Homo sapiens: one gene and its partners. The protein of the gene in region 5 interacts with the protein of the main gene of each other region in a pairwise test. Each region holds a gene or a part of one and is shown on either strand. Other genes may lie near its edges. The genes, in order: RAI2, PRR4, NAXD, PDIA6, SGTB, ADAT2 and TMEM123.

Region 1 (4,324 bases), on a different chromosome or scaffold from region 5:
TGCTGACAGTGGGTTATTTAGGGCCAGGGCCAGCCTTAAAGGAGAGAAAATAAAAAAGAGAATGCACACTGTCATTTCCTGACAGCTTGATGAGAACAAGAGCAAGGACATAAATAAAATTTCTGCGAGGGAGACAGAATAAATGCAAGGAAGGTCAATTTCACACAACCATAGCACAGCAGATGAAGAAACCTGGCCAAAGGAGAGTTCAGGGAGGTAGAAGAAGGATTTTGGCTGGCACTATGGTATCATCACATCACATCATTTCTGGGTCCTTCCCTAGGCACTGGTCATGGCATAAATAGACGGAAAGGGATGGGATAATGAACTTGGGACTGCAGTGATTTACAGGTCAGGCGCCTGTGGCTCTGGCTCCTGAGGGGGCTGCCCTCACAGGGGACCCTTGGCTGACCCCCTTGGGCTCCTCAGAAGGAGTTGGTTTTGTTTCACATGGCAGAAGCAGACTGTTTACTGGAGCACAGGAAGAATCCGACATTCTGGCGAAAAATAATTCATTAACAGCCAGGGTATTACCAGTTCCCTGGAAAAGCTCCTCCAGCTGCACTGTAGCAACTGTTCTTTTTCAGCAGCAGAATCGGGCCGTGCTGGCAGCCAAGACTGGGTGTGTTTGGGCGTTTTTATTGTTGTTGTTATTTTTGCCTTTGTGTGTATGGCCACTTTTCCCTTATAATTCAGAGAAAGAAATGGAGGCCTGGAAGGGTTGAAATGGTGTAGCTGTCAGCCATTCTTTCCTTCGTGCTTTAAGCCTGGAAGCTCCAGGCTGACTGTATGAACATAGGTTTTTCCTGATCAAAGCCCATCCCCAAAGTGGGGGCACTGCAGAACCACATAGAATGTTCTAGGATGAAAGGAATTTTAGGGAACTGAAACACCTGTTCTTAAGATTCTCTGAAAGCAATTGGCTGAAGAATCCCTCCCCACCCCCGTATGCACAACCAGGCAGAAAGTCCTATCTTGGCCGTGTGGAATTCTTTTGCTTACTATTAATTGGCACAATGGGGCCAAAGTATGTGATTCATCATCCTAGTTTTGAGGGCATTTGGAAAGCCAGGCAAGCATAACCAAGAGAATGGGCTGCATGTTTTGCTCACTAAGGAATGATTGAATCTACAGTAAATACAAGGAAAGATTCAGGAAGCTTTTTGTGCTCTGGAAAAATATGTCTTTTTAAAAAAATAAGGTTTTTGTCTGCCTGTTTGTTTTTTAATGCCTCATGCTCAGAAGTGTGTGCCCAGCTAGCAAAAAACGGGAAAGAATAGCATTTCCTTGTTTTAGTTTTTTTAAAACTCTAATTGCAGTTTAGGTAAGATACAGTGTATTGATTTTGGTTTTGTATGGAACATAACTAGATAATCATTTTATTTTATGAGATATTAATTTCCACCCATTTAGACTGATGAAATATGCATTTAAAATATCCCATACCTACCCCCACCATCATCACAATATTTCTTTAATGTTCCTAGATTCAGATGGAGAACCTATTTCATTTATATGGAAAAGGAGTAAATATGTTAGTCAACATATATGTAAACCTGCCTTAGATTTTGAAAAAAATGGGATCCTTTCCCTTTTTTTAAAAAAAAAATGAATGTTAAAGGCCAAGCATATTTGGCTTTATCTGGAGCATGGTTTCTTCACCTTGGCCCTGTTGACATTTTAGACCAGAGAATTGTTTGTTGCAGGGGACTGTCCCATGCACCTTAAGATGTTCAGCAGTATCCCTGGCCTCCACCCACTAGATACCGTTAACACCACATCCTCCTACCCTAGACCTTGCCAAATGTCCCCTCTGGGACAAAATTAGCCCTGTTGAAGACCACTTGTCTAGACCAAAATTTAATAAGTACTTTGTGTTTTTTTGGAAAATTCCATTTGACATAATAAAAGACACAATTTTCCCCCTCTGACTTTTATAAATACAATTCATGGGCATGATTAATTAACGGTTGGAAGTGGGTCATGTGCGTGATTTAATTCTAAGGTTGGTGGAAGGGTCTATAAGATTGTATAAGCATAGAGACTTTTTCAAGGCAGGCAATTTTATAAGTCATAGGTGATTGGGGGGCACATTGTAAGAACTAGTGGCTTCTCTGGTTTTTCATAAAGAGAACAGGTTTATTCCTCCCTAATTTCTTTTTCATATGCACCTGATTCCAGGCATGACTTCAAAGTCAGCAGGCATCTTCCCCCACCCCCAGCCCCTCCCCACTGTCATTTCTCCGGTAGCATCTTAAGCCCGAGCCAATTGATTTAGCCATTTAGTGTACTTGTGAGAGCTCTGCTCGTAATATTGTAATGGACTCATTTCAGATTGTAGCAGCCCTTTACCCACCACTAAATTCCATGTTTTCCAGTACTATTGAGAGAGAAAGTCAACAGTACTTTCTCGGTAGATGGATCATTTTTCGTAATGATTGAAATTCAGGTAGCCCCCATCACCCCTGGCAATTTTGTTTCCTTTTACACACATTTGTTTCCTTGAAGCAATTCTCCTTCAGGCAGCTAGCACCTGGTAATGCCTACAGGCAGCAACAGCAGATGAAATGTTGCCACCAGGACAAGCCCTCAGCCATATTCTTTCTGGTAGTCCCTTGAAAGGCTAGAAAGGAGGGTCATGCCTTACACAAGGAAGGTGTCATGCGGGCAAACCATGCCCTGCCCATACATGGAAATGGAATGGGTGTTTGGGGGGCAGGGAGAGGGCAGAGAAGTGGATCACTCATTATACAGGGAAAGTGTTCCCCAGTTAGCCCTCCCCTGCCAGCCTCTGAGAGTGATATGGGAGCAGGGGATGCTGGTGAAGGATAGGGGCAGTTGTTCAGTGCAGAAGTCAACATAGGCCACTTCATTTTGCAGCCATCCAAGGTAGGCTGACCTTTTCCAAAGAGTGTCATGTGTAGGATTCCCTTGCATACTAGCCAGTGAGGAAAAATGGAAAGGTGAGCATTGAGGGATTTGGCAAGCCAGCGACACTTCATTGGTGAGTTCCAGCATCTCTTGAAGAGTAGTTGAAGTCTTCCTTGTCGCCATGAAGAGAGAGGCAACAAGCTGGTAGGGATCCACAGTGTGCTGGGCTCAGGCGGATAAATAATTGATTTGTAGCACGTGACACTTGGACATTCTAAGTTGCCAGTCCGTTGCAGGCCAGGATTCAGGTGATGGTTGCAACACTGGGAGAGGAAATAGGATCATAAATCTGGGCGTTGGAGGCCAGTTTCGTGGTGCAGAGGCCACTGGGGCCACCGCTGTGTGTGCAGAAGCAAACAGACAGATCTGAGTGGTATGTTGTTCCTCAAAATAATGGCAATGGAAATGGCTGTGAAAAACATTTAGGAACTTGTCATAAAAATGCAAACAGTCTTCCTTCTATAGGGAAAAGCTAAATAAACCCTATTGCAGCTGTATTAAGTAGAAACAGATTTGAAAATCGGGTGTTTTTTTTGTTTTGTTTTGTTTCTGAGACACTTATTTATAGCAGGTTGGGCAGAGGCTGCCACTATCTTTCGAGACTCCGGAAGAGTGTTTTCCAGATGGTCCTTGCTGTTTTTCTCTTTATTAAGCTTAGCTAAACAGTGCTGTGCTTGGAAAGGGTCATAGAAACCAGTGTTACTTTTTTTCAGATTACAATGGTCATTGATTGGCTAGCAATCAATGGATGGGAATGGATTGAGCCTGTGCCGATGAATTTCCTATTGCATTTTATAAACAAGAAAAATGTCAAGGAAAGCACAGAATAGGGATACTCTTTCGACTATGCACATCAAAGCTTTGAAAACCATACAGAGTTACATTTCCTATTAATTTCCATTTAAATTTTGTTCTAAAATAATGCTCCCCTCTTTGTGAAAGCTCTACAATGTTACCGTTTCCTTTCCAACATCTAAACAATGTCCAGATCCATTTCAGATTGAGCAATTAGCTCTGGATGCAATTTCCTTTTATGAAAAAAAGAATCACTAGCCCTCTAGACCAAATATAAAATTATTGAATGTGAAAATATCAATATGGGGCCATTTGTTCTAAGATCCTTTTTGGTCTATCACTGGCATTTTAAGAAGGTTAGAAAAGGCCAATTCTGCCCTGCCCTTCCATGTTCGACACAGCCACACCAGAAACCCCAAGCTTTGTTTGTGCTCATAGAGGCTGAGCAGCTGGATTTGAGGTCATCAGGGCTGAAGCTTACAGCCAAAACTGCAAGGGGAAACATCTTAGAATGTCCCATAAGCCAGTGGTCCCCACAGACCAGGTTTGCAGACCACTGCCTGTATCGGACAGGATTTCTGCCCCCTCACAGTGAAGT
Region 2 (4,785 bases), on a different chromosome or scaffold from region 5:
TCACCAGCCCTGTACAAAAATGTAACAATAATACGAGACCTATACAATGCCTGTAATGAAAAGTGGCAGCTGGTGATACTGATTGATCTAGGGGTTCCATGAAAATATAAGCAGAAAACTACTAGATAGGACAGAAAAATCAGCAGGTGAAGATTAAGCTACCAACTCAGGACCCTACCAAACTTTTCAGAAACACAAAACCTTGGTGCCAAATTTTAAAAACAAAAAAGAAGAAAGCAAGCAAAGAGAAGTACAGAACCTTGTTTAGAAAATCAAATAAAGATTTCTCCCAGAACGCATGAAGAAAGCAGTAAGATATAAAACATAGACATAGGGAGGATTGATTCACAATATAACATATCAACAAGTAAGGTTCAGCACAAGAGTGAAGAAGAATGAGTATAAGAATATTGCAGAGAAAATAATCTTTGGTAAAGGCAATCTGAGAAGCAAATAGAATGGAAACTAATTAAAAAATAGAAAATCAATGTAATACTTGAGGCTTTCAACAGGCTATCATACTATCTAATTAGATTGTATTATTGTGTCCACTCAATAACCAGTGTGATTAAAATATTTGGTACAAGAAGTAAGACCTAAACTGAATCATATAGAACATTCTAGAAAAGAGAAAGATCATGGAAGAAGTCTTAGGGACATAAAATAGCATGGCTTGTTCAAGGAACTGTGTATTCACACTGTTCTGATGCAGAAATCTAATGGTGCTTTCTGTGGCCAATTTTGCCTTACTAACCTCCAGGGTATTAATAAAGATAGAATGTTTTAATACCTGTGTTCTACAACAATAAAGTATCTCTGGTTAATGCTAGATTAGGAGAATCTTAATCTCTTTGGGCCAGAGTAGCCTGAGGGTAAAACTTCTGTCATCCACGTGTGCCCAAGTGTGTGTTGTCCTCACACAACTCAACATTAAACAGAAATGATCTCTATATTATTATGAAATTAAGCTACATATCATCCATATAGGTATATATGCTATAAAAATGGAATTTATGCTACACTAATAGCTAGAGATATTAATCATTTTCACTTCTGGCTATAAGATCACTGCTGACAAACATATACAAACGTAAGCACGTGTGCACACAGACAACCAATGAAGGGGAAAGACTAACTGTCTAACCCAATTGAAAATCAAATGATGACCAAACTTCAATTGTAGTATTTGTGCTGATTGCTTGGATACTGTTTCTTCAGAAACTATGCTCAAGTCACAGTTTGTACCTAACCACATCCTACCACCACATCCTGCTGGGCTAAAATCCCAAAAAGTAATAAGAGACGCATTCAACTTTATGAGAGGAAAGCAAAACCTAATCTTTCAGGTGGTGAGGTCCACCCAGTATGGAGCTCAAAGGTGCCATTGTTCTGCTCATGTTTATAAAGGGAGCTGCCATGTTTCTCTCAACGCAGAGTTGGGAGCAACTCCAGAGCCTCCTTCAAGATGCTGCTGGTCCTGCTCTCAGTGGTCCTTCTGGCTCTGAGCTCAGCTCAGAGCACAGATAATGGTAAAAAAATTATTTTTTTAAAAAAGGAGATGGGGAGTGGGATGAGGGGCCATGACTCTTCTAGGGCCTCAGGGGTTCACCCTACACCACTGCAGCGGAAGAGCAGGAGGGGAGGAAGGAGGTTGAGAAGAAGGGTAGGGCTTTGGAGCTCTCATTCCAAGGATGACATCTGTTGTGCCCTCATTCCATGCCAAGGCCTTATACTTTATTTGATATACACTTGGAACCCAATAGAGAATTTCAATTAGAGGAATGACAAAGTAAGATTTGTATTTTTAGAAAGACCTGGCTGTGCTGTGAAGGATGCAGTGGAGAATGCAAGACTGATCCAGGGAAGTCCAGCTATGAAGATGCTACAGTAATCTCAGTGGACAGCGATGATGGTGTCCTTGCTGTACAGGGGATGCAGAATCAATGAAAGAGATAAACAAACATCAGAGTACTGTCAGACATAGAGGACTGGATAATACATTTGTGTCTTTCTACATAGTGGTATAGAAATATCAGGTCCCCAAATTCCCATTTTTCTTCCAATCACATTTAAAATTTCAATATGTTGCAGGCAGCATGTGTAAGATTATATCCAAATATTTACTCCTGGTTGCTCCTCTTGGGCAAGCTTGTGAATATGATCAAAATATTTAAAGAAGGAAGAAGGTAAAGATCTAAAATATGACATGAAAATACCCAGAGAAGTGTGCCTAAATTAGCATTAGGGTTTGAGGGATCCTAAGGATGACAAAAAGGGACTCTTCTATTGAATTCGTGGTTGATGCTCAGCGATAGTAACAATCCTGCCTCCCCTAACATCTTCCTCCCCTTCCAGCAGCTTCACAGAACATGGTTGATGAGGTAACTTAGGGGATGCACAGGGTGTGGCCAGAAGACCCCTTTCCCTATAGACCACTATGAGCCCTGAAAGATTTATGAGGTAATGTTCACTTCATCCTGTGCTTCTTTTCCTAGATGTGAACTATGAAGACTTTACTTTCACCATACCAGGTAAATCCCAATGATCCTCAATCCAATTCTTTTCTTTCTTTTTCCACTAGAATTTCTTTTTAGTTTCCTTCAGTGTCTTCTTCTCATCATTTTTTTGGGAGGAGGTGGTAAGAGGGGTCAGGCATTGATTAATATTAGTGCCCCTAAATATATAGGCAATTCTTACCCATCTTTGATTCTGGGGACCATGAGCCAGGCCACCAACTTGAATACAGAGATGCCTGGCTTTGAGGACAATAGGAGTGGGCAGGCTTTTTTCCCAGGCTGGAATGACTGCTGAGAGATGATGAACAAATGAGAAGTGTTCTCATTCTGACTCCTCCATCCTTAACTGCTTCTTTCTTCCCCCAGTGTTCCCCCGCACGGTTATGTGGCTTCAGGGAGTAACACAAAACAAAACAAAAAAATCACTGCATGAATGTCTTTTCTCTGTGTTGACCCACTCAGCTGTGTCACTACAGATGATAAATAGTTGCCACAGCTGTTTAGTGATCATGTGCAGGCTTTCACATTGTCTTTCTCTTCTGTCTCTTAGTATTTCTCTACTTGGTTCCAGGAGCCTGGGAAATCAGCTCTAGTTTCCACATAGGGCTTAGGTGCCCAGAGATGGAGTCACAGTTTGTAAGTCATTACAGCAACCAAAAAATAAAAATAAAAAATAACCAGTAACATAACTGAAAGCTATAATGCTTTTGCTTTTTTTTTTTTTTCTGTCCTTGGAGACATCCTCTGGCAACTCTAAGATATGCAAGAACCCCTCTTTTCATTTAAGGAAACATACTTGTCACAGGAGCAAATAAATGAGACTTTCCATATCACTCTTACATGGATTAAGTTGAGAGCTGCATAAAAAGAAAAAAAAAACAGTGGGCACAAAAGAAGTTGACAGTCAAGCAGCAGGTTTGGGGAGAACAGGGCTGTGTGGTAAGGTGAGAGAAGTATAAAGAGAGGAGAGTTTTTCTTCACTGAGCTCATGCATTCTTGTCCATTAATTACTCACACAGATGTAGAGGACTCAAGTCAGAGACCAGATCAGGGACCCCAGAGACCTCCTCCTGAAGGACTCCTACCTAGACCCCCTGGTGATAGTGGTAACCAAGATGATGGTCCTCAGCAGAGACCACCAAAACCAGGAGGCCATCACCGCCATCCTCCCCCACCTCCTTTTCAAAATCAGCAACGACCACCCCGACGAGGACACCGTCAACTCTCTCTACCCCGATTTCCTTCTGTCAGCCTGCAGGAAGCATCATCATTCTTCCAGAGGGACAGACCAGCAAGACATCCCCAGGAGCAACCACTCTGGTAATCTAGAATTCAGTGGCAGGTATGATTCCAGTTCATTCTCCATTAAATGCCCAAACTGCTACCATTCCCAAACTTTATCGTGTTCACAAATCAATTGGAAATATGTTGAAATTACATAATCCTGGACCCCATTTCTAAAGATTTGTATTCAGATATTCTTGGATAAGGTTGCAAGTCCTTGTATTTTTAACAAGTGGTTCAAAGAATTCTTATCTTTTGAAATACTGACCTCCCCAACTTTTTTCTTAAGATGACTTGTCTCATTAAAATGAGTTGGTAATGAGGAAGTGGGGTGTGCTCTCCCTTTGGTGCTCTGCCTCCTGTCTTTGAGTCTGCCTTCTCAAACCCAAGGACTCTCCATCTCAGGTTTCTCTCAGGTTTCCGCCAGAGGACTCTTTGCTCAGTCCTGCCTCACACTAGCCTCTCAGGTCCAGTGTCCCTGCTAAATGATACTTGAACTTGATGCTCTTATATCTTATTTAATTTTTAAAATACTTATTTTGAAATTAGTACATGCTCAAGGAAAAAAAAATCTAACTGAACAGAATGGTATGAAGCTAAATCTTAAAGTGACGCCTTATCCTACTTACCCACACCCTTCACCAAAAGTCACCACCCTTAATTTTTTGAACATCCTCCTGGAAATATTTATATGTATATAAGCATACGTCATTATTTTTCCCACAAATGACATATTATTTTATATGCAGATCTGTATTTGCTTATTTCAAATAATACATGTCTTAGACAACTTTATCATTTCACGGAGACCTATAGATCTTCTTGGTGATTTATTTGTACATTTTTCTTTTGTTGTTACAATTGTATACTATTCTCTTGTGTGACTGTACCATGATTTCCTCAGTCAACCACTGTTAATTGATATGTAGGCTTGTATTAGTTTTTCACTACTACAGGTTCAAGTTGCAGTCATTTTCATAAATAT
Region 3 (4,324 bases), on a different chromosome or scaffold from region 5:
TAAATAGCACACGTTGCATAATTCCATTCATATGAAATGTCCTGAACAGGCGAATCCAGAGAGACAGAAAGCATACTAGCTGAGTGGCTGCCAGGAACTGGGGAGACTGGGGAACAGGGAGCAGATGCTAACGGGGATGGGCTGCTTCTGGAGGCAATAAACATATTCTAAGGTTGATCATGGTGATGGTTGCACAACTATGAATATACTTGAAGCCACCGCATAGTTCACTTTAAATGGGTGAGGGGTATGGTAGGTAAATCATCTAAATAAAGTCGTTTTTAAAAAACCATCTCTGCAGTTTCTTTGCTACCAGATCCCACGGGCGTCTTGAATCCTTGCCAGGACTCAATCTGTCATCAGAAGAATGGGGCTATGAATAGGAATCTACCTAATCGGGTTGTTTTCAGGCCTACACCAGATGATGACCTCATTCAGGAACGTCGACGAAGTAGGAAGCCTCTGCTCCGCACCAGACACGAGCTGGAAGCTGACGAGGAGGCGGCAGCCCACGCTAGATGACCTGAGGGCTCTCAAGACCACGGCAACAGTGTACAGGAACCAGAATGCAAGGTCCAGAGTCTGGGCTGCAGGGGCAGCGACGCACACCCTCACTTCCCACCTTTCACACTTCCACGCAGTACAGTGGTTTTTTAAGATACCAGTTTTTAAATTGTGAACTTAAATTCACAAAGAAAATAACCTGAAGCAGAGCACTCTGGCTCGTTCACCTCTAATTCATCCGCACCCCCAGGATGCAGAGCTGGACAGGAAGCAGCAGCCGTGCACCGCAGACCCGCAGCCTGCAGATGGGACTCCCCATTGAGAGCCTCTCCCCGGGGATGACAGAGGGTTCTACTGCTCCTAAACATGGCCACCTCCTCCTTCCCGGTGAGCGGGTAAGACCTTAAAGCTCAAAGACGGGCTCCCGTGCTGACTCCACGCCGCTTTTCCTGGTCTGTGCAGTGTCAGCCTGCGTCTGCCTGCCCCTCAGATGACTCATCCTGCACTGCTGGCTCCATCACTCGCCGCCTTCAAGCCCCGCAGCCTCAGAGACCCCTCCATTAACTAAGCACCCAACAGAGTGCCATGCAGATGGCTGGCATTTTCAGGGTGACTGCTGATCTGGGGAACACAAAATGGCCAGGCACCTTCTAAGGGCTTCAAGCGTAGTCCCTCACTAATGCCCGGCCTCTGATCCCCATGCAGTCACCACGCCTTGCACATGTGAGCACCCTGTGGCACCAAGCCATCTGGCACACTGTGTCTTCCCCCAGGAGCTCTAACAGGGGTCCCCCGGAACTTGAGAAAGGGTCTCAGAGGGCAGCCCCACAGGAGCACAACCCCCAGCAGAGACACACCAGCCCAGGGAGCGTCAGAGGACGCAGGGAACACAGAGCTGGCAGCCATCCCCATCTTTTTATCGCCCCTGATCCCAGGTGGTATTTATTTACAGCAGGCACAAAGTGATCAGAATAACTTTCATCTTTTGGATTTAGGTGGGCATAAGATGAACTTTAAGAAAGAAATACCAGCATAAATGAGAGTCCATGCGCATATGCATGTGGGCACGGACAAGCAGGCCCGTGTCACCTCACAGCCTGATGTCAGCAGAGCATGGCGCCAGGGCTGTGTGGGAACAACGGCCCAGGAGGCTGAGGGAACCCCAGGATCCCCCAGCAAGAAGGGGGTGGCCTGGGAGATACACCCAGGCCTGACCCCAAACCTCTGTCACCTCCTCAGTCCTGCTCACCCTCTCCTCACATCAGACATAAAACAACTGAGCAACTCCACACACACACCTCCTGCAGCTGCTCCATGAGAAAACAGTCGGGCCCGGAGAGAAGCACATCTCAGCACAGTTCCTCCCCACCTTTGCACTCAGTTTCTCCTCCGTCCCTCAAATCTTATCTCAATCATGCCACAAAGAGGCACACGGAACACTACACAAAATGCAAGAGAAATGCCTCTGTTCCAACTTCACGCCTAAGGCTAAGCCTGTCATGAGGGAAGTGAGTGAGTATACACATTACCTGGACATTTCTGAGAAGCGCATCATCTCTACCCAAGCCAGGTCCTACGACAAGAGCATGCAGCCGGGGCAGCCACTTCTCCACCTCATGAACAGCATTGGGGCTGTCACTAAAGAAGGAAAGGAAGGCCAGGATGGTTACCCACAATTCCTCATTTACTTACTGTCATGTATTTGTTTACATTTTATTTTGAAAAAATAACTTATAAATAGTAATGACTTTTAAATAATTTCTGTAATTTAGATTTATTATTTAATCAGTACAGAAGGCTCCCATGTACCCTTCGCCTAGCCTCCCCGAGGTTAACGCCTCACACACCCACATTCCGGATCAGCATGACCAAGTTCACATTGGTTAATACTATTCATTAAACCACAGCATTTTCCAAATTTCCCATTTCCTCTTGATGTCCTCTTCCCATGTCAGGACCCAAACCAGGCCCCACACTGCATGTGGCCATTGCCTCTCCCTGATCTCTCTTTTAATGCCCAGATTTACATGCCTAGCTTTCAACAGTTACGACAAGTTAGAAAAAGAACGATGGCTATTTTCAAAATCATCTTTGCCCTCTAAAGTTAGCCCGTTTGTTTCCATCACATACATGTGTGGCTGTAAAGCCTACTTTGTGTGCTTATAGACCAGGCCCCACACAACGCACTGACCCTGCTGCAGTTTCTCATTCAGAACAGGGCAGGGGTTTGCTTTTTCAGAACTCCTTCCTGTTCGGTGTGACCTCTCCTAGAGCCCACTGTTAAGGCTTCTGTCCCCTTTCCTCCCCGACAAGCTCCCTTGTCAGGGTCACCCCGCACTGTGAGATGCACCAACTGTTCTCAGGCCTCATCTCCAACTGACCCAGAGTCGCACACACAGGCCCTTCTGGAGCTGTCTGGAAACAGCGGCTTCACTGACTCCTGGAGGCCCCTGCTGCCTCCTCCCCAGCCCGTGCTCCCAGCATCTGAGTGCCAAGTCCCCCCTGCCCCCAACCCCAGCCCCCCTCCGCCTCTTACTCCCTCGTCTTCCAGCTTTAAGCACCGTCCACATGTGCATGACTCCCAAGCCCGTGTCCCCACTGTCCAATGCCCTCTAGCCACGTCCCTTGGATGTCTAACTGGCAGCCAAACTGCGCCCTACACCCAACGCCTCATCTTCATCCCACCCAAGCCCGTTTCCACCACATGGAGTGACCACTCGCTCAGACCAAAACCCTTGGTGGAGTCTGTGCCCCTTGCCTTTTCCAATCCAATCTGTCGGCAAATTCCACCCCCAAACTTTCCAAACATACCCAGAATCCGGCCCCTCTCACCATCTGACTGCACCCTTCCCTCCCACAGGTCCTTACCACAGCCTCCGGCCCAGCCCCACAGCCGCGTAGGAGCCTTTATGACCCACACTGGCCCTGCCCTGCTTACTCAGGGCCAGAGCCACAGCCCTGACAGCAGCCCCACACCCTGTGGGGCCCAGCCCTGCACCTCTTGGTCACCCGACACATCACAGCACCGCACCTGGAGCTCCGCGCCGGCTCCTCTCTGGTGTGGAGAGGCCGGGCTCGACCCAGGCGTCATCACACTGTGCTGCCGCCCCAACTGCCCCTCTGCCCACTCTCACAGCCCCCTCCCTGCTGCCGCTCTCTACGGTTCCTTCACCACCTGACATCCTCCTCTCCCTTGTCTCCAGAGCAGCACAGCCCAATCCAGTCGGTGCAAACACACACAATGAAAAGTAAACAAGAGCAAACGCTCTGCTCCCGCACCTCCCAGCCACATTTCAAGCCCTCAGTGGCCACAATCCTGGACGGCAGAGAGAACACCTCCACACAGCAAGCTCTATAGCATAGGCGGTCTGGGGGAGCCCCACGGGGGCAGGTTTTTGCCTGCCCAGTTCCACGCTGACCCATGGAACACAGGCTAGGGCCTGGCACCAGACATATGTGCCGAGTGCAGGAAGGGTCTTGTTATTGCTCAGAGGCCCTTCGTTTCCACCTTCTGCAAACCTGTCACACACAGCCCACAGGGCCTCCCTGCCTCTGGAGCTGGGCCCCGGCCATTTCCAACAGGCCCAAGCTCCCCCACCCACCTCTCCACCCCGCCGTCTCTGTCTTATTCTGACCCCAGAAGAACGGGCTCCTTCATTTCCCTACTTCCTCTACAGCACCTGCTGAGAAACTCTGAGGATGGAAAATCCATCAGGACGCTTTCGGTGTCAGTGCCAAAACCCCAAATGATGCAGGAGGGAAAGAGAACCTACGAGAAGCCGGCGCAGAGCGACTCACAGAACTGGGTGGACGATCAGCT
Region 4 (3,771 bases), on a different chromosome or scaffold from region 5:
GTATAATCTATTTAAACAAGTAAGTGGCAGAGCCAGGCTGTGTCCAGGCATTGCGATTTCAGAGATGTTTGTATGTGTGCTAATCACCCCACCTCCACCACCACAGCTTCCACAGGCTTAAGAATCAGTAGCAGAAAAATCTCCTCTTAGAGAACATGCCTCCAGGTGTTTCCATACGAGGAAGTAGTCGTGGGAGAAATGTTTTCAATGAAAGTGACGGTGCGAAGGTCTTGTTTGCCAGCTTACCTTTAGGTGTTGTATCATGCAGCCTCCTGATTGTCCCTTGTCTTTTGGGTCCCACAGATTATCAACGAGGACATTGCCAAGAGGACGTGTGAGGAGCACCAGCTCTGTGTTGTGGCTGTGCTGCCCCATATCCTTGATACTGGTAAGACAGACGGAAATGATTTCCCTTAGCTGTTCTATGCTAGATGCTCTGAGAATACTTTCTAAATGGATTAATTTTATGGACTCCTTTATCTTTACCTTTAAAAAACTTTGTCTATTTAAATCAGGAGCTGCAGGCAGAAATTCTTATCTGGAAGTTCTTCTGAAGTTGGCAGACAAATACAAAAAGAAAATGTGGGGGTAAGTTACTGAGCTTACTGTCTGAGTGTCATCTGAACAGCTGATTATAGGCTTTCTTGAGAGTGGTTCCCCCGTGTTTTTGTAAGCTGTGTTCTATGTTTGCTCTGCTATATGTTTTTTTTTTTTTTCCCTCCTGCCTCAGCCTCCCAAGTAGCTGGGATTATAGGCGCCCGCCACCACACCCAGCTAATTTTTGTATTTTTAGTAGGGTCAGGGTTTCACCATGTTGTCTAGGCTGGTCTCAAAACTCCTGACCTCAAGTGATCCACCTGCCTCCACCTCCCAAAGTCCTGGGATTACAGGTGTAAGCCACCGCACCCGGCCTGCTCTGCTATATGTTTTTATTCAGGATGTGAAAACTTTATCATGGGAGGAAAAGAAGGAATGAAGGGCTGTCAGCACAGCATGCATTTTTCTCATAGGAATCATGTTTTACATGGTGATTGGAGTGCCAGGTTAGCAGGCAGACACATAAGGAGTAGTGCACCTGAATTCTACTGTGAACTTGAAGGCTGGGTGAGAAAGGGGAAATAGAATTGTTTCCTTCTCCTCTTCTGAGTTAAGGACTGGATCTAGGCACATTTTCAAAACAGTGTATCTCTTTCCTATTTTATCCTTTTTTTTTTTTTTTGAGACAGAGTCTCACTCTCTTGCCCAGGGTGGAGTGCAGTGGCACAATCTCGGCTTACTGCAACCTCCGCCTCCCGGGTTCAAAAGATCCTCCTGCCTTAGCCTCCTGCGTAGCTGGGACTACAGGCGCACGCCACCATGCCCGGCTAATTTTTGTGATTTTAGTAGAGATGGGGTTTGCACCATATTGGTCAGGCTGGTCTCGAACTCCTGACCTCAGGTGATCCACCTATCTTGGCCTCCCAAAGTGCTGGGATCACAGGCGTGAGCCACCGTGCCCAGCCTCCTTCCTATTTATCTTTTTGCTTCTTGTCCTCAGTATCCATTGCTTTCCCCAGGTACCTAGCGCCCCCTGTTGTCCCTCTCTCGATGACCTTGCTCCTCCTCCATTAGTCCAGCAAATGTTTATTAGATGCCTACAGAACGCGAGAACATGCTTAATAACCCAAATGATATTGGTGGGATTTCAGGTAAAAAGGGAAAATCCATATAGAAACTCATCTTTTGTTTTTATTTGTCATTCTACGAAATATCTGAAGCGTGATCTTTTGTTCTCTAAGATCTTCTAGTTAGATCGTAAGCAATTTAAAAGACATATTTGCCCTAAAAACCAGTCTGGTTTTCTAGGTGGCTGTGGACAGAAGCTGGAGCCCAGTCTGAACTTGAGACCGCGTTGGGGATTGGAGGGTTTGGGTACCCCGCCATGGCCGCCATCAATGCACGCAAGATGAAATTTGCTCTGCTAAAAGGCTCCTTCAGTGAGCAAGGCATCAACGAGTTTCTCAGGTAATTTGTTTTCTTAGGTTGTTTGTTGTTTTGTCTGTTTGTTTGGTTCTGTTGTAGGTTTATATTTGGAACTAGGTATATATAAGCCAGGTAATAAATGGAATTTAAAATGCAAACTAATTCCAGAGAATTGAATGTTTATACATTAGAGTTTTTAAATTGTCTCCCTGTTCGTTCTTTTTTCCATGGAATACTCTGCTTGCGGGATGAGGAGAAAGCATTGCTACCCTCGGGCCGCCCTGTGTGCCATTCTGTGCATCTGGCCCTGGGCTCTTTCTCATTCTCATAAAGGTCTCATATGGGCTAGAGGCAGCCCTGTCTGTCCATCCTCACCCTCATATGCATTGTAATCTTGACCTTGGGGAAATGTGGTTTCCATTTCTGGGCACTTGGCTTTGGAATGTAGTTATTTATTTGAAAATGGGCGTACTTAAGTTACTCCAACAATGTGCAAACAACATGATAGGTTCTAAAACCAATATACAGAGCTGTCTACTCTGCTCTGCTATTCAGCTCACCTAATCATCTTTTAGGCAATACAGGGCATTGACCTAAAGAGGTTTTATTTCCCATTCTTGCTTTCTTCCGCGTTCATTTCTTAGCTGCTGTATAAGAGATGTTCAGCACACAAAAGGTAGTTGAGAGGCTTGTGTTGAATAATGAATAGGAAGAACAGTACATGAAAGCCTGCAGTGCTCTTGCTGCCAGTCTTCCTACTTGACACAGAAGTTTGTGTGCTGTGTGGAGACGTGTGTGTGTGCTGTGTGGAGAGTAGGGGCTCCAAAGTCAGGTGCCTCAGTCACAGCTCTGCCTTGAGTAGTGAAGTGGGAGGCATGGAGGAAGCCCTGTGAGATCAGCTGCTTCAGCCTCTGCCGGCGGGGGGCAGACTGTGGCTCCTTCCCTCCCAGCTCTCTCTCATTGTAGTTGGTTAATATGGTTAATGGGTGTTTTCTTTCCCCCCCACCCCCGAGACAGAGTCTTGCTGTGTCGTCCGGGCTGGCACGATCTCGGCTCACTGCAACCTCCACCTCCCGGGTTCAAGTGATTCTCCTGCCTCAGCCTCCTGAGTAGCTGGGATTACAGGCGCCTGCCACCACGCCCAGCTAATTTTTGTATTTTTAGTAGAGATGGGTTTTCACCAGGTTGGCCAGGCGGGTCTCAAACCCCTGACCTCAAGTGATCCACCCACCTCAGCCTCCCAAAATGCTGGGATTACAGGTGTGAGCCACCACGCCTGGCCAAGGGGGTGTTTTCATTAAGTTTGTGGGGCTGGGTGCGGTGGCTCACGCCTGTAATTCCAACACTTTGGGAGTCTGAGGCAGGCGGATCACTTGAGGCCAGGAGTTCGAGACCAGGCTGGCCACCACGGTGAGACCTTATGTCTACTAAAAATACAAAAAATAGGCCAGGTGTGGTGTTGTAGGCCTGCAGTCCTAGCTACTAGGGAGGCTGAGGCACACCCAGGAGGTGGACGTTGCAGTGAGCTGAGATCACACCACTGCACTCCAGCCTGGGCAAAAGAGTGTGACTTGGTCTCAAAGAAAAAGAAGTTTGTGGACTGCTTAAGTTTGTGATTGTCATAGAGTAGTATTTATTAAATCATGAAGTCAGAATGTGAATATATCTCCTGTAATTTTTTTTTCTAATAATAGGTTTGCTTATTCTAGCCCATTGGTGCCATAGATTGTTAGTCTAGCTCTATTATTCTATGAGTTGTTTGGTGAACTCTAAATATTTGTGCCCACAGTATTTCTGGCTCTGGTTTCC
Region 5 (4,324 bases):
GAGTGAGTTCAGATATATAGAATCTTAAGTTGGAGGGAATTTTGCTCCCGTGAGCCATAGTACAGTGAATAAATTAAGTGTAATCTGGATTAGAACTGAATACCAAGACAGACAGACGTTTGACGATGTTTGTGATGTCCTGATGTTCTTTAATCATATATCTGATATTCTTATATTCTATTCCCTTCAGGCTGGCCCTCACTGCCTTGAATAAATTTGAAGAAGCAGTTACAAGTTATCAAAAGGCATTAGATCTTGACCCTGAAAATGATTCCTATAAGTCAAATCTGAAAATAGCAGAACAGAAGTTAAGAGAGGTATCCAGTCCTGTAAGTTGTTAATGCCAAATGAGTGAAGTATTTTCTGTCATTCACAATTTATTGTAATTGTAGATACTGGACTGATTCTCAGATATAATTGTTTTACAGACAGGAACTGGACTGAGCTTTGACATGGCTAGCTTGATAAATAATCCAGCCTTCATTAGTATGGTGAGTATACTTTCTTTTCTGCCTCTACTGGCTATGTTTTCCATAGACTATGTAGCTATGCAATTTTTTTTAGAAACAAGTGAGTTTTTGTGGTGGTGGTTGTAGTGGAGTATTGATATAAGGCTATAGCAGGGTTCTGTTTTTTTATTTCCAACTTTTATTTCAAGTGCAGGGGTAAATGTGCAGGATGTGCAGGTTTGTTACATAGGTAAAACGTCTGCCATGGTAGTTTGCTGCACAGATCCTCCCATTACCCAGGTATTAAGCCCAGCATCTATTAGCTGTTCTTCGTGATCCTTCCTCTCCTCCCATCCTCTGCCCTCCAACAGGCCCCAGTGTGTGTTGTTCCCCTACATGTGTCATTGTGTTCTCATCATTTGGCTCCCACTTGTAAGTGAGAACATGTGTTATTTGGTTTTCTTTTCCTGTGTTAGTTTGTTAAGTAAAATGGTAAAATGGCCTCCAGCTCCATCCATGTCCCTGCGAGGGACATAATCTTATTTCTTGTTTTGGCTGCATAGCATTCCATGGTGTATATGTACCGCATTTTCTTTATCCAGTCTATCATTGATAGGCATTTGCATTGATTCCATGTCTTTGCTATTGTGAATAGTGCTGCAGTGAACATACGTACGAATGTGTATTTACAGTAGAAAGATTTCTATTCCTTCGGGTATATACCCAGTAATGGGATTGCTGGGTCGAATGGTATTTCTGCTTCTAGGTCTTTGAGGAATCACCACACTGTCTTCCACAATGGTTGAACTAATTTACATTTCCACCAACAGTGTTAAAAGCATTCCTTTTTCTCCACAACTTCGCCAGCATCTGTTGGTTTTTGTTTTTTTTGTTGTTGTTGTTGTTTGTTTGTTTTTTGAGACAGAGTTTCACTCTTGTCACCCAGTCTGGAGTGCAATGGTGTGATCTTGGCTCACTGCAACCTCCACCTCCTGGGTTCAAGCGAATCTCCTGCCTCAGCCTCCTGAGTAGCTGGGATTATAGGCACCCACAACCATGCCTGGCTAATTATTGTATTGTCAGTAGAGATGGGGTTTCACCATGCTGACCAGGCTAGTCAAATGACCTCTGGTGATCCGCCTGCCTCAGCCTCCCAAAGTGCTGGGATTACGGGCATGAGCCACCACACCTGGCCTGTTTTTGAGTTTTTAATTATAGTTGTTCTGACTTGTGTGAGATGGTATCTCATTGTGGTTTTGATTTGCATTTCTCTAATGATCAATGATGTTGAGCTGTTTTTTCATATGTTTGTTGGCCACATATATGTCTTCTTTTGAGAATTGTCTGTTCATTTCCTTTGCCCACTTTATAATGGGGTTGTTTTTTTCTTGTAAATTTGTTTAAGTTCTTATAGATGTAGGATATTAGACCTTTGTCAGATAGATAGATTGCAAAAATGTTCTCCCATTCTGTAGGTTGTCTGTTTACTCTGTTGATTGTTTCTTTTGGTGTGGAAAAGAAACTCTTTAGTTTAATTAGATCCCATTTGTCAATTTTTTCTTTTGTTGCAATTGCTTTTGGCATCTTCATCATGAAATCTTTGCCTGTGTCTATGTCCTGAATGATATTGCCTCGGTTTATAGAGTTCTTATAGTTTTGAGTTGCACATTTAAGTCTTTAATCCATCTTGAGTTGATTTTTGTATATATATGGTATAACGAAGGGGTCCAGTTTCAATTTTCTCCATATGGCTAGCCAATTCTCTCAGCAACACTTATTAAATAGGGAATCCTTTCCCCATTGCTTTTGCCAGGTTTGTCAAAGATCAGATGGTTGTGAGTGTGCAGTCTTATTTCTGGGTTCTCTGTTCTGTTCCACTGGTCTATGTGTCTGTTCTTGTACCAGTACCATGCAGTTTTGGTTATTGTAGCCCTGTAGTACAGTTTGAAATTGGGTAGCATGATGCCTCAGCTTTGTTCTTTTTGTTTAGGATTGCCTTGGATGTTTGGGCTCTTTTTTGGTTCCATATGAATTTTAAAATAGTTTTTTCTAATTCTGTGAAGAATGTCAATGGTAGTTTAATGGGAATAGCATTGAATCTATAAATTGCTTTAGGCAATATGGCCATTTTCACGATTTTGATTCTTCTATCCATGAGCATGGAGTGTTTTTCCACTTGTTTCTGTTCTCTCTTATTTCCTTGAGCAGTGGTTTGTAGTTCTCCTTGAAGAGTTCCTTCACTTTGCCTGTTAGCTGTATTTCTAGATATTTTATTCTTTTTATGGCAATTGTGAATGCGAGTTCATTTGTGATTTGACTTTCGACTTGCCTGTTGTTGGTATGTAGGAATGCTAGCAATTTTTGCACATTGATTTTGTATCCTGAGACTGTGCTGAAGTTGCTTATCAGCTTAATAAACTTCTCGACTGAGACAATAGGGTTTTCTAGATATAGGATCCTGTCATCTGCATATAGGGATAATTTGACTTCCTCTCTTCCTATTTGAATATGCTTTATTTCTTTATTGTGCTTCATTTCCCTGGCCAAAACTTCCAATACTATTAATTTGTTGAATAGGAGTGATGAGAGAGGGTATTTTGTCTTGTGCTGGTTTTCAAGGGGAACACTTCCAGCTTTTGCCCATTCAGTATGATATTGGCTGTAGGTTTGTCATATATGGCTTTTATTATTTTGAGGTATGTTCCTTCAATATCTAGTTTATTAAGAGTTTCTTATATGAAAGGATGTTGAATTTTCTTGAAGGCCTCTTCAGCATCTATTGAGATAATCATGGGGTTTTTGTCTTTAGTTCTGTTTATGAGATGAATCACATTTATTGATTTGCATATGTAGAAACAGCCTTGCATCTTGGGGATGAAGCCTCCGTGATTGTGATGGGTAAGCTTTTTGATGTGCTGCTTGGATTCAGTTTGCCAGTATTTTGCTGAGGATTTTTGTATCAATGTTCATCAAGGATATTGGCCTGAAGTTTTCTTTTTTGTTATTGTATCTCTGCCAGGTTTTGGTATCAGGATGATGTTGGCCTCATAGAATGAATTAGGGAGGAGATCCTCCTTTTCAATTTTTTAGAATAGTTTCTGTAGGAACGGTACCAGCTCTTCTTTGTACCTCTGGTAGAATTCAGCTGTGAATTCGTCTGGTCCTGGGCTTTTTTTTTTTTTTTTGGTTGGTAGGCTATTTATTAGTGCCTCAATTTCAGAACTCATTATTGGTTTATTCAGGGATTCAATTTCTTCCTGGTTCAGTCTTGGGAGGATGTATGTGTCCAGGAATTTATCAAGTTCTTCTAGAAATTCATTAGTAAAATTTCTAGTTTATGCGCATAGGACTGTTTATACTATTCTTTGATGGTTGTTTGTATTTCTGTGGGGTCAGTGGTAATATCATTTTTGATTGTGTTTGTTTGAATCTTCTCTCTTTTTTCTTCATTAGTATAGCTAGCGGTCTATTTTATTAATTTTATCAAAAAACTAGCTCCTGTATTCATTTTTTTTTTTTTTGAAGGGTTTTCTGTGTCTCTATCTCCTTCAGTTCAGCTCTGATCTTGGTTATTTCTTGTCTTCTGCTAGCTTCGGGGTTTGTTTGCTCTTGTTTCTCTAGTTCTTTTATTTGTGATATTAGGTTGTCAACTGGAGATCTTTCTAGCTTTTTGATTTGGGCATTTAGTGCTATAAATTTCTTTCTTAACAAGAATGAAATTTTAGCTGTGTCTGAGATTCTGGTATGTTGTATCTTTGTTCTCATTCAAAGAAGTTCATTCTTCTCATTCAAGAAGTTCTGCCTTAATTTTATTATTTACCCAAAAGTCATTCAGGAGCAGGTTGTTCAATTTCCATGTAGTTGTGTGGTTTTGA
Region 6 (4,324 bases), on a different chromosome or scaffold from region 5:
GATACTAGAGTGTTGCCAGAGATGTGGTTTGTAAGTTTTTTCCTATTTTAGCATGTTTTTCTTCCTCTTTGCTGCATGTATTAGTTTCCTATGGCTGCTGTAACAAATTATCACAAACATGGTGGCTAAAAACAACACAAGTTTATTCTCTTATAGTTCTGGAGGCCAGAAGTCTGAAATTTTAGTGAGCCCCAATCAAAGTTTTGGCAGGGCCGAATAACTTCTGGAAGCCTGCCTTTTCCAGGTACTGAAGTGACATTTATGACCCATCCCTCCATCTTCAAAGCCAGCAGTGCAGCATTTTCAAATCTCTCTCTCTCTCCTTCCGTTATCACTTCGCCTCTTGCCTTCTGTGGGTGCCTTCAGGACCCACCTGAATTTGGGATAATCTCTCCATCTCAAGATCCTCAACAAATATTTTTTGCATGAATAAATGATTTGTCTCTTCTGTGTACCTTGATCTCTGTGTAATTCTACACTTACCTTAAATAAAATTCTTAGTATAATAATTGCCATAGCTACACTGGTAGTTAGCATTTCCATTCTCCTTAACTGTCCGTCTTCTTCCTGGCTTTCTTCTCTATAGTAGCCTATGGTGCATTTGTCTATATTAACCAAACCTCGGGACTCTTCAAGCCTTTTGAACTTGCATAAACTGGACATGCTTTAACCACTGTCACAGAACTGGGACACAACCGGCCTGTGGATAGTTCATAAAATAGTCCTGAATGCAGTCTTACTGCATCAGATACTGTCTTCTCACATCTCTCCATGCCCCATCTCTGACCCACCAACCAGATGGAGAAAAGAGAGGCCCAGTTTGCTCCTGCTGTGGGCGTCTCCTTTTTCCTCTAATGGCCAAATGAAGAATAAGTGTCCGTTGAACATGGTGGGAATAACTGAGGAAATCCTGTATGCCTTATAATAGGAAGTTGTCACTAGTTAAATAAAGTAGAACTGGGAGTAAGAGACTGGTGCAGGAGACAGAAGACACTGTTTTAACAATGCCTTCAACTTTGCACTTTATATGCCCTATGATGTGTGTAAGTACCTGCACTTAAGTGAGAATCAAGTCTTCCAAAGTCTCTTCAGGGCTGCCACAGTAAGGAATACCTTGCCTTTCTGGAAACAGCTGTACAGCAGTTATATTCTTTTGACTGCATTGAGATGGGAATGAATGTACACTAGTCCAAGGGTTGTACTCTTCCCTTATTCTGACTCTCAGAGGCAGTATCAGGTTATACTGAGGCATAACCTGCCTGCTTAAGCTCTCCGCCTGAAGGTAGAGTTAATTTTCCTAGGGCCCAGAGCTGCTATCATGGGACAAGAAGAAAAACGAATGGCCTGTGATAAAGGGAACTTTGAGAATATAATAATTGGTTTGCCATTCCTGGGATGGTAGTCATGGAAGTGTTCCTAAACTTGTTTTTCTCATTGATTTTTTTCAGTTGAGGTATACTTTATATACAGTGAGATGCACAGGTTGTAAATGTATCCTTCAATCTGTTTTGAATAATGCAAACATCTCTGTAATCCATGTCTTTATCAAGATCCAGAAAGTTTTCACCACCTCAGAAAATTTTTTTGTGTACCTCCCCAATCAATCTGCACATCCTCCTCCATGAAGCAACCACTGTTCCAGTTTCTGTCATTGTAGTTTAGTTTTATCTATTCTGGTACTTTGTGCAAAAGGAATCATATAGTATGTGTGCTTTTGTGTGTGACTTCCTTTACTTAGCATGTCTATGAGGCTCATCCATGTTGTCACAGTATCAGTAGTTCCTTTTTATTGCCGACTAGTATTCCATTATATGAATAGGACACAGTTTGTTTATCCATTTTCTTGTTGATGGCCACCTGTGCAGTTTCAGGTTTTGGCTATTAACATTCTTTTTCAAGGTTTTGGTTCTTTTTCAAACTTTCTTTCTTCTTCTTTTTTTTTTTTTTTTTGTAGACACATATTCCCTTCTTTTAAATACTTAGGAGTGGAATTTTGTTATAGACTGTGTGTGTGTTTACTTTTTAAAGAAATTTCCAAAACGTTTTTCATAATGATTGTGCCATTTTACATAGAGTACTTCTAAACTCTTATTGTCTCACATAGAGTAGAAATTGTGGGACAGGGTGACATCCAGTCTGGTTACCTTTAGCTATTGGGACTCTAGAGGATAATTTCTATAATTTTTAGAGAAGCAAAGGAATTTCAGTGAGGAAAGGATTGTAATAAAGGATCTATAAGTGTTATTTAGTCCCCTACCTTTTTGCAAATATGTATTCTATCTCTGAAAAGACACATAGACCCTGGCACTTCAAGAACAGTGGTCAGTCACAGTCTCCTTTGATCACGTCTATTTCCAATGAGAAGACATCAGGGGCTCTGGACCTATCAAGGGGATTTTTTTTGAGTCTCCCTTAACATGGACACAACACAGAACACGGGCACTAAATACCGTAATGGAACTATATTCCAGAAAAGGGAAGGCTGCACTTCTTTGTTTCAGTCTTTGTACATGTGTATCTTGTTCATGCTGCATCTCTTTCTCTCCTATACTCTCTTCAAGTATGGAGTATTACGTCTTACATTTTCCACTTTGTGTTTCAGGCCAAAGAAGCCCTCGAAAATACTGAAGTTCCTGTTGGCTGTCTTATGGTCTACAACAATGAAGTTGTAGGGAAGGGGAGAAATGAAGTTAACCAAACCAAAAATGTATGTGAGTTGAGCAGTATAATTGCAAACATACAGTAGTGATGGGTGGACTGGAGAGAATTTACCACAGTTGGTGTGAAGGTGAGACTGAATATAGTCCCGTAGCTGCCAGTGGTGGGTAGCTTTTCTTAACGTCTCTCTTTTTCAGTATCATTTTCTTCCTGATTTTGAAAGTGATACATGTTGATTTTTTTTATTGTGGAAAATTCAGAACAATTTAATGAAGCCATAAAATCTTAGTGAATAATTTTCTGTTTCATAGAGTTTTACTCTAATGCTTGAGTGAAACCCAAGAGGGGATTTTATTTCATCAGAATGTCAGCATGGAAGAAACAAGTCTGTCTCTACTTTAAGCCAATCTAATATATGAAATTTTCATTTTATAAAATAGGTCAATTTAACTCATAATACATTCCTTTTTTAGTACCTTTAAATAATATTTTCATCCTAGTAAGTTAAAAAAGTATCCTCAATGTATAGCTTTGGAGGGAGGTATGAGGATTATATAAAGGAAGCTATTCCTTTATCAGATAATTCAACAAAATAGGGTCTTCAACACCAGCTGCCTCTGTAGCTACATGTAGCATGTACATTTTAATAGCTTGTATGACTTTTATTGTGGTTAGGTTGGGAAGTTCATGGTTCAAGGCAATGCTTCTTAAACATGGTATCACAATAGTGTGTCATGATAAGTATACTTGGGAAGTATAAGTAAACTACCAAATTTTATGATTACAAAAATTCCTAGGTGGACTCAAAGATCACTTATACCTGTAATGCCATTCACACAGACTTTTATCTTGTCATATGATTTTGGGAGCCAGAGAATAAGCTGGTGTTGATACCAGGGCTGTGGGAACTAGTTCATCTATCAATCACATCTATTGAAAAGAAAACTGATATTTAGCAAAACACATGTAAAATAGGAATCCAGATTCACAAATCATTTATTTACTTATTTATTTTTAGCCATAAAATAGAACAGGATTATATTTTAATACGTAACTTCTGTACAACCAAAAAAATAAAACACCACAGTAAAATAAACTGGAATAAACATGGTATTTCATTTGCAATGCTTGACAAAATGTTCACATCCTTAATCAGAAATGAGTTCTTAGAAATCAGTAACAGAGAGACTAATATTACAAGGGAAGTGAAAATAAAAGGAACAGAGGAAAATGAAATAACAACCAATAAGGCTACATGAAGATGATCTAACTTAACTTTAACAGAAGAAAAAAGCAATTTCTTTGTAACATTAGATTATCAGTGATTAAAAATACTGATATCTAATGTTTGAACAGTTTTAGGGAATGGGAAACGTTCAAACACTGGGAAAGCTTACATTGATTATAGGAAATTTACTCAAAATGTAGATTTTGCATATACTTCGCCCTAGCAGTTCCAATCAATAGGAACTGTTCCGACAAAGTAGTTGGACAATTCAGATTTATATATAACCATGTTCACTGCATAGAAAATCTGTAGTTAATATGTCAGCCCCCCAAAAAAACTTTTTTATCAATTTGCTTATGAAAAATAGTAGATCGAAGTGTAGAATTAGAAAGAAAAAAGACACTTAAATAAAAATATAGTATTTCACAAAATTCTTTG
Region 7 (5,031 bases), on a different chromosome or scaffold from region 5:
TTCCTGTGCCTCAGCCTCCCAGCTACTCGGGAGCCTCCCGAGTAGCTGGGATTATAGGCACGTCCCACCACGCCCAGATAATTGTATTTTTAGTAGAGGCGGGGTTTCACCATGTTGGTCAGGCTGGTCTTCAACTCCTGACCTCAAACGATCTACCCTTCTCAGCCTCCCAAAGTGCTGGGATTACAGGCATGAGCCACTATGCCCACCCAAGTCCCACATCTTATTATCATCACCTTGAGGATTAGGTTTCAACACATGAATGTGGTGGGGATATAAACATCCAGACCTCTTATTCCACCCCAGATTCCCAGGCTATAAGTACACTGAGCCTTAAAGGAAGTATTAGCTGTGGGTTGGTGAAGAGAATTCCAGAAGGAAAGAACAACGTATGCAAATGCCAGGAACCAGAAAGCACCCTTCTCCATGGGCAACAGAACCAAGGCTGGAAAGACAGGTTGGGCCTAGATTGGGAAATGCTTGGATAATGGGGTAGTCACCAGAACGGTTTATTCCTAAACCAGATTCCCCAGTTAAATAGAATAACCAAAATCGAAATGTGCAATGCTTGCTTTTTGTCCATGATAAGCTGCAGGGGAAACATTTGCAGGTTGGCTGACTGAATCCACAGATGGAAGTCTCTGTAAATTTAGGACAGATTGTCTCAGTTAATCTCTAGGACCAGTCAGACCTCTGTAATGATGGATTTGCCTGACATGAGAAAGTTCTACCTCTCATAACACAGTTTTCAAAAGTTAACTGCAATGTGGCCTTTATGTGATGAAATCTGGCTCAGGTGCCAAAGATCTGCAACATTAAGACCTTTGCAGGTGGGGATTCACTGTGATTTTAGGTTCCTTGGATCCTTCAGTCTTCTACTTCAGCTGAGGGTTCCCACCCAAGCCAGGACTCAGCCTTTGTTATTCTCATGCATTAGCCACAGGTAGCTATGTCACTTCAGAGTTCTGAGCACGATGAAAATGCAGACTTTACAAGCACTTCAAGTCAAGACAAGTGATTAGCATTGGCTCCAAGGGTTTAAAAGGAACTCAGCCAAAAACTGTTCAAAACTGGCCATTTCATCTGAACTGGGACAGCAGGGCACAAGGAGAGAAAAGGCTGGTTGGATTAATGCAGCCCCCGCTTTCCATGGCTCTACTGTATTTCACTGAGAGTTGCTACCAACTCCTGCGCGCGCCCCCACCCGCCCACTCCACTAATCTCGTGTCTTAATCAGAGATACAGGGAACCCGTGGAGAAGATGAAGTACAACTGGGATAAGAAGATCGTAGGTGTTTTACGTTTGAATTTAAGCAACAAATCTGTCGAGCTGTTTTTCTCCACTTCCCCCTTAGGCTGGGTCACGCGAGGGGAAAGCTCCGACCGCCCAGGACTCCTTAGAGTGAATCCCATCCCCTCAAGTTCCTCTCCAGAATCTCCCCCTCCTCCCGCCTTTGCCCTGCAACTCCTCCCTCTCACTCTGAGTCGCACGCACCCCTGTCCCCTCCCTGCCCGCAAAACTACTCTTCAAAGGCTTCCTTCCGGGCACCGCGAAGCCAGCGTGCTCAGCATTCAGGGAGGCAGCGGCGCTCGCCTTCATCCAGGACAACAAAACTGCCATTTCCGAAGAGAAAGGAAACGGCTCGCGGTTTCTGGGGTTCCCAAGCGCGCGCCTGCGAGGGAGGCCGCGAGCCGAGTCGCCACGCCCAGAACCCCGAGCCCGCCCCCGCGCCACCCAGCCCGGCCCCGCCGCCCCGGCTGCGCACGCGACGCCCCCTCCAGGCCCCGCTCCTGCGCCCTATTTGGTCATTCGGGGGGCAAGCGGCGGGAGGGGAAACGTGCGCGGCCGAAGGGGAAGCGGAGCCGGCGCCGGCTGCGCAGAGGAGCCGCTCTCGCCGCCGCCACCTCGGCTGGGAGCCCACGAGGCTGCCGCATCCTGCCCTCGGAACAATGGGACTCGGCGCGCGAGGTGCTTGGGCCGCGCTGCTCCTGGGGACGCTGCAGGTGCTAGCGCTGCTGGGGGCCGCCCATGAAAGCGCAGCCATGGCGGGTAAGTGGCTGCGGGGGTCGTCAGCCCCGTTCGTGGGAGGCAGCGCGCTGCCGAGGCTTGGGTTCCCAAGTTGGGCTCTGGTACAGAAAGTTCCGCGTGTGTCTGGCCGAACGCTCGGGGCGGACCCAGAGGTGACCGGGCGGGGTGGGGGAAACTGAGGTTTGGACCAGTCACCCGCTGGCCCCGGGGCCGCCTGCTGAGGAAATTGCCTGGTGCTTCCCCTCTCGCTTTTTGGATGCGGCGGTCGCAGGCCGGGACGGGTGCGCATAACCTGTTGAGTTACCGCAAGTTGGTTTTTACAGCCTTTCCCTGAAGTTAATGTTTGCCGAGGTTAGAGTTTCTAAGGCTTCCGTTTGTAAACAAGATTAGCTGAGTTGAAAAATATGTCTACCTAGGCCCGCGGAAACGTCTCCCAGTTAGTCGGGGAGCTTTTCAAGCGTCCCCCAGGCATTTCAGCGTCTAATATTATGCAGTATTATCCAGATGAATTACAATCTTTAGGTCCCCCTGACGCTCGAAGTTAGACTTCGGGGCTCTTGGAGCTAGTTGGGAGCTTTTGGGGAGCGCGCCCCGCCCTCGCGGTAGTTGAGGCGGCCGCCCCCATGGCGGGGCGCTCTCCACCCCTCGTGTGCCATAAACACCCGGCCGAGGCGCGCGGCAGCTGCGCAGCGTTAAGGGCACAGCTGCACGGTCGCCGGTGGCCCTTGTCGTCGCTAGTAAGGTCGTAACAGGATGATGTTGACTTTGCTTTTCTGTGTAGGGCGGAATTTGTTTCGTTTTAGGCCCTTGGCCCTTTGGAGACTTCAAACAGCCCTTTTTGGATGAAACCAGGAAGTTGGGATTTGTTGTGTAAATACTGTTTTCCTTTGTCAACTGTTAGAGAAGTCAGGTCCCTAGGTAATGGTCAGTAAACTAGGATAAGTTAAGTAACCCAAGGTTTTCATGGTTTTAAGTTCTATCCATCCACTGTATATGTTAGCCTTAGGTTCGTTTTATCCAGCAAAAGAAAAAGGCAGTTTGTAAATCTGGAAGGTTCAGGCACAACACTTGCTTTTTCTGGAATAACCTGGGTGAATTAACAATTTTTCTTTGTTTTGCTGAAGTTTTTTTGTTTGCTTAATTGTGCGTGTGACAAACTGGCTTCGCAGACCTAATTTTGAGATCATTTAAGAAAAAAAGTGGTAAAATCATGTCCATCGTGTATCTTGGTCCTAATTTTATACCAATTATCTCATGAGGTGAGGTCTCCATTTTTAAAAATTTGTTGCTGTGTTTGTGAAGATAAGCCTTACTGTTTCAATGAATTACCGATTAGAGAAACTGTGAGTGACCATGCTTTTCTTTCTTTTGCCCTGATAACACAGATTTTTTTTGCCCTATTTTAGCACTGTTTGTTCTGTTTATTACTTAATGTCTTACTAGAGGTTAGTCCCATTTGCAAAACTTGAAATGCTCTACAGTAGGCGAGCCCTGAATTCATAAACTAGTATAACCAACCAGAGGTGGAATCTGTTTCTACAGACTATATAATGTCACCTTGCAACTAGACTAAAAGGTATACAATAGAAGATTTCTCAAAAAAGCTAGTAACTGTTAATCGTAGTCTTCATGTATAGTGTAATCTGTATACAATGTCATTACGAAGTATAGTGATTTTTAGCCATCATACTAAAACTCTTAATGGCTGATTTTTACTGGGTACATATTCTGTGCATCCCACGCTATGCTAATTTAGGTCCATAAATCATCCCATTGAATCCTCACAGTATCGTCCCCATTTTATAGATAAGTAAGCTAATTTATGGCAAGTAAAACAATTAATACATGTTTGGTTTCAGATCAAAATCCAAATTTTCAATTAACCATTTCACCACTAAGCCGCGTTAGATGATGATGGCTCTTGAAGTAGATAATACTTTTATTCCACAGTATTACCATTGCCTAGAATATTGTGGGAGAAGATAAAAACATTATTGAAATTCTGCTTTTAAAATATTCTTCACAGTCAGCTGCATAGCTTTATAAATATCAGTTGAAGGAGGAGGGAGACTATGAGCAAGTTTGCAAATCAGCAAACAGGATTTATTGTAGTATTCCAATGAATGACATTAACATTAACAGGATGGGAGGGGCGGCTGTTAGTCATTACTCTTAGTGGCAAGTGACAGAAACCCACCTTGAACAACTGTGGAAAGAAGGGACTTTTTTGACTTGTAACTGAAAAGTGCAAGGATTGAGGTGGCTTGAAAATGGCTGTATTCAAGTGTTCAAATAAGTCGCCAAGAAATTAAGAAATCATCGCGTTAAGAGCGACAATAGCAGGGAAACAAAAACAGGCTGTTGTGTTAGCCCAGCCAAAAGATGATGGTGAGTGGCAATGGAGATAAAAGGGTGGATTCTAGATCTATGGGGGGTTGGGACTAATCACTTGCTGATGGATTGGAGGGTGGGATGAGGAAGAGAGAAGAATCAAAGGATGACCTCTTGGTTTTGGGGTTGAGCAGCTGGTAATGCAACAATTGGGAAGGTTGGGGGAGGAGCAGGTTTATAGTAGAAAATCAGTAGTTCCATTTTGGCACTCATATCTGCAGGCTTAGGAATCAAACTATCTGGTCCAATTCCAGTCTCTGCCACTTTGTATCTGGGCGGCCTTCTCTGGGCCTCAGTTCTTGTCTGCAAAACAATACTCCTAAGAATTGTTGAGAGGGTTAGATGAGCTAATGCACATAACCCTGGCTTGTGGTAAGCACCTAATAATGTTGGCAATTGTTTGCTATCTGCTGCTAAATACATCTACGTAGTCTGTTGACCTTGATCTTTTTCAAGTTAATCTTACACTGTATCCTTTTGTGATAAATAGATGATAGTCCCATCAAGAAGAAGAAATTCTCACAAAGAAGAAATTTGCCCAAGAAGTAAAGATAAATCCTTCAAAGTTACTGCTTTTCTTTGTACTTGGAGGATTTTTTTTTAAGTGGGGG

What was found.
Region 1: the proteins of SGTB (region 5) and RAI2 interact in binary tests that used the Homo sapiens proteins (3 or more experiments, as listed by UniProt).
Region 2: the proteins of SGTB (region 5) and PRR4 interact in binary tests that used the Homo sapiens proteins (3 or more experiments, as listed by UniProt).
Region 3: the proteins of SGTB (region 5) and NAXD interact in binary tests that used the Homo sapiens proteins (3 or more experiments, as listed by UniProt).
Region 4: the proteins of SGTB (region 5) and PDIA6 interact in binary tests that used the Homo sapiens proteins (3 or more experiments, as listed by UniProt).
Region 6: the proteins of SGTB (region 5) and ADAT2 interact in binary tests that used the Homo sapiens proteins (3 or more experiments, as listed by UniProt).
Region 7: the proteins of SGTB (region 5) and TMEM123 interact in binary tests that used the Homo sapiens proteins (3 or more experiments, as listed by UniProt).

Annotation. Positions count from the first base shown.
Region 1 is NC_000023.11:17,850,952-17,855,275, reverse strand, and holds part of RAI2 (retinoic acid-induced protein 2), read left to right. Parts: intron 1-4,324.
Region 2 is NC_000012.12:10,846,118-10,850,902, reverse strand, and holds the start of PRR4 (proline-rich protein 4 isoform 2 precursor), read left to right. Parts: upstream 1-1,427; 5' UTR 1,428-1,465; coding exon 1,466-1,529; intron 1,530-2,495; coding exon 2,496-2,531; intron 2,532-3,535; coding exon 3,536-3,840; coding exon of another isoform or gene 3,841-3,858; intron 3,859-4,785.
Region 3 is NC_000013.11:110,625,257-110,629,580, reverse strand, and holds part of NAXD (ATP-dependent (S)-NAD(P)H-hydrate dehydratase), read right to left. Parts: coding exon 4,303-4,324; intron 2,143-4,302; coding exon 2,034-2,142; intron 1-2,033. UniProt on the Homo sapiens protein: Catalyzes the dehydration of the S-form of NAD(P)HX at the expense of ATP, which is converted to ADP.
Region 4 is NC_000002.12:10,785,514-10,789,284, reverse strand, and holds part of PDIA6 (protein disulfide-isomerase A6 isoform d precursor), read left to right. Parts: intron 1-303; coding exon 304-388; intron 389-515; coding exon 516-588; intron 589-1,845; coding exon 1,846-2,004; intron 2,005-3,771. UniProt on the Homo sapiens protein: May function as a chaperone that inhibits aggregation of misfolded proteins. Negatively regulates the unfolded protein response (UPR) through binding to UPR sensors such as ERN1, which in turn inactivates ERN1 signaling.
Region 5 is NC_000005.10:65,676,661-65,680,984, reverse strand, and holds part of SGTB (small glutamine-rich tetratricopeptide repeat-containing protein beta), read left to right. Parts: intron 1-190; coding exon 191-329; intron 330-428; coding exon 429-491; intron 492-4,324. UniProt on the Homo sapiens protein: Co-chaperone that binds directly to HSC70 and HSP70 and regulates their ATPase activity.
Region 6 is NC_000006.12:143,436,973-143,441,296, reverse strand, and holds part of ADAT2 (tRNA-specific adenosine deaminase 2), read left to right. Parts: intron 1-156; exon of another isoform or gene 157-244; intron 245-2,602; coding exon 2,603-2,707; coding exon of another isoform or gene 2,708-2,711; intron 2,712-4,324. UniProt on the Homo sapiens protein: Probably participates in deamination of adenosine-34 to inosine in many tRNAs.
Region 7 is NC_000011.10:102,449,543-102,454,573, reverse strand, and holds the start of TMEM123 (porimin precursor), read left to right. Parts: upstream 1-1,808; 5' UTR 1,809-1,950; coding exon 1,951-2,050; intron 2,051-5,031. UniProt on the Homo sapiens protein: Implicated in oncotic cell death, characterized by cell swelling, organelle swelling, vacuolization and increased membrane permeability.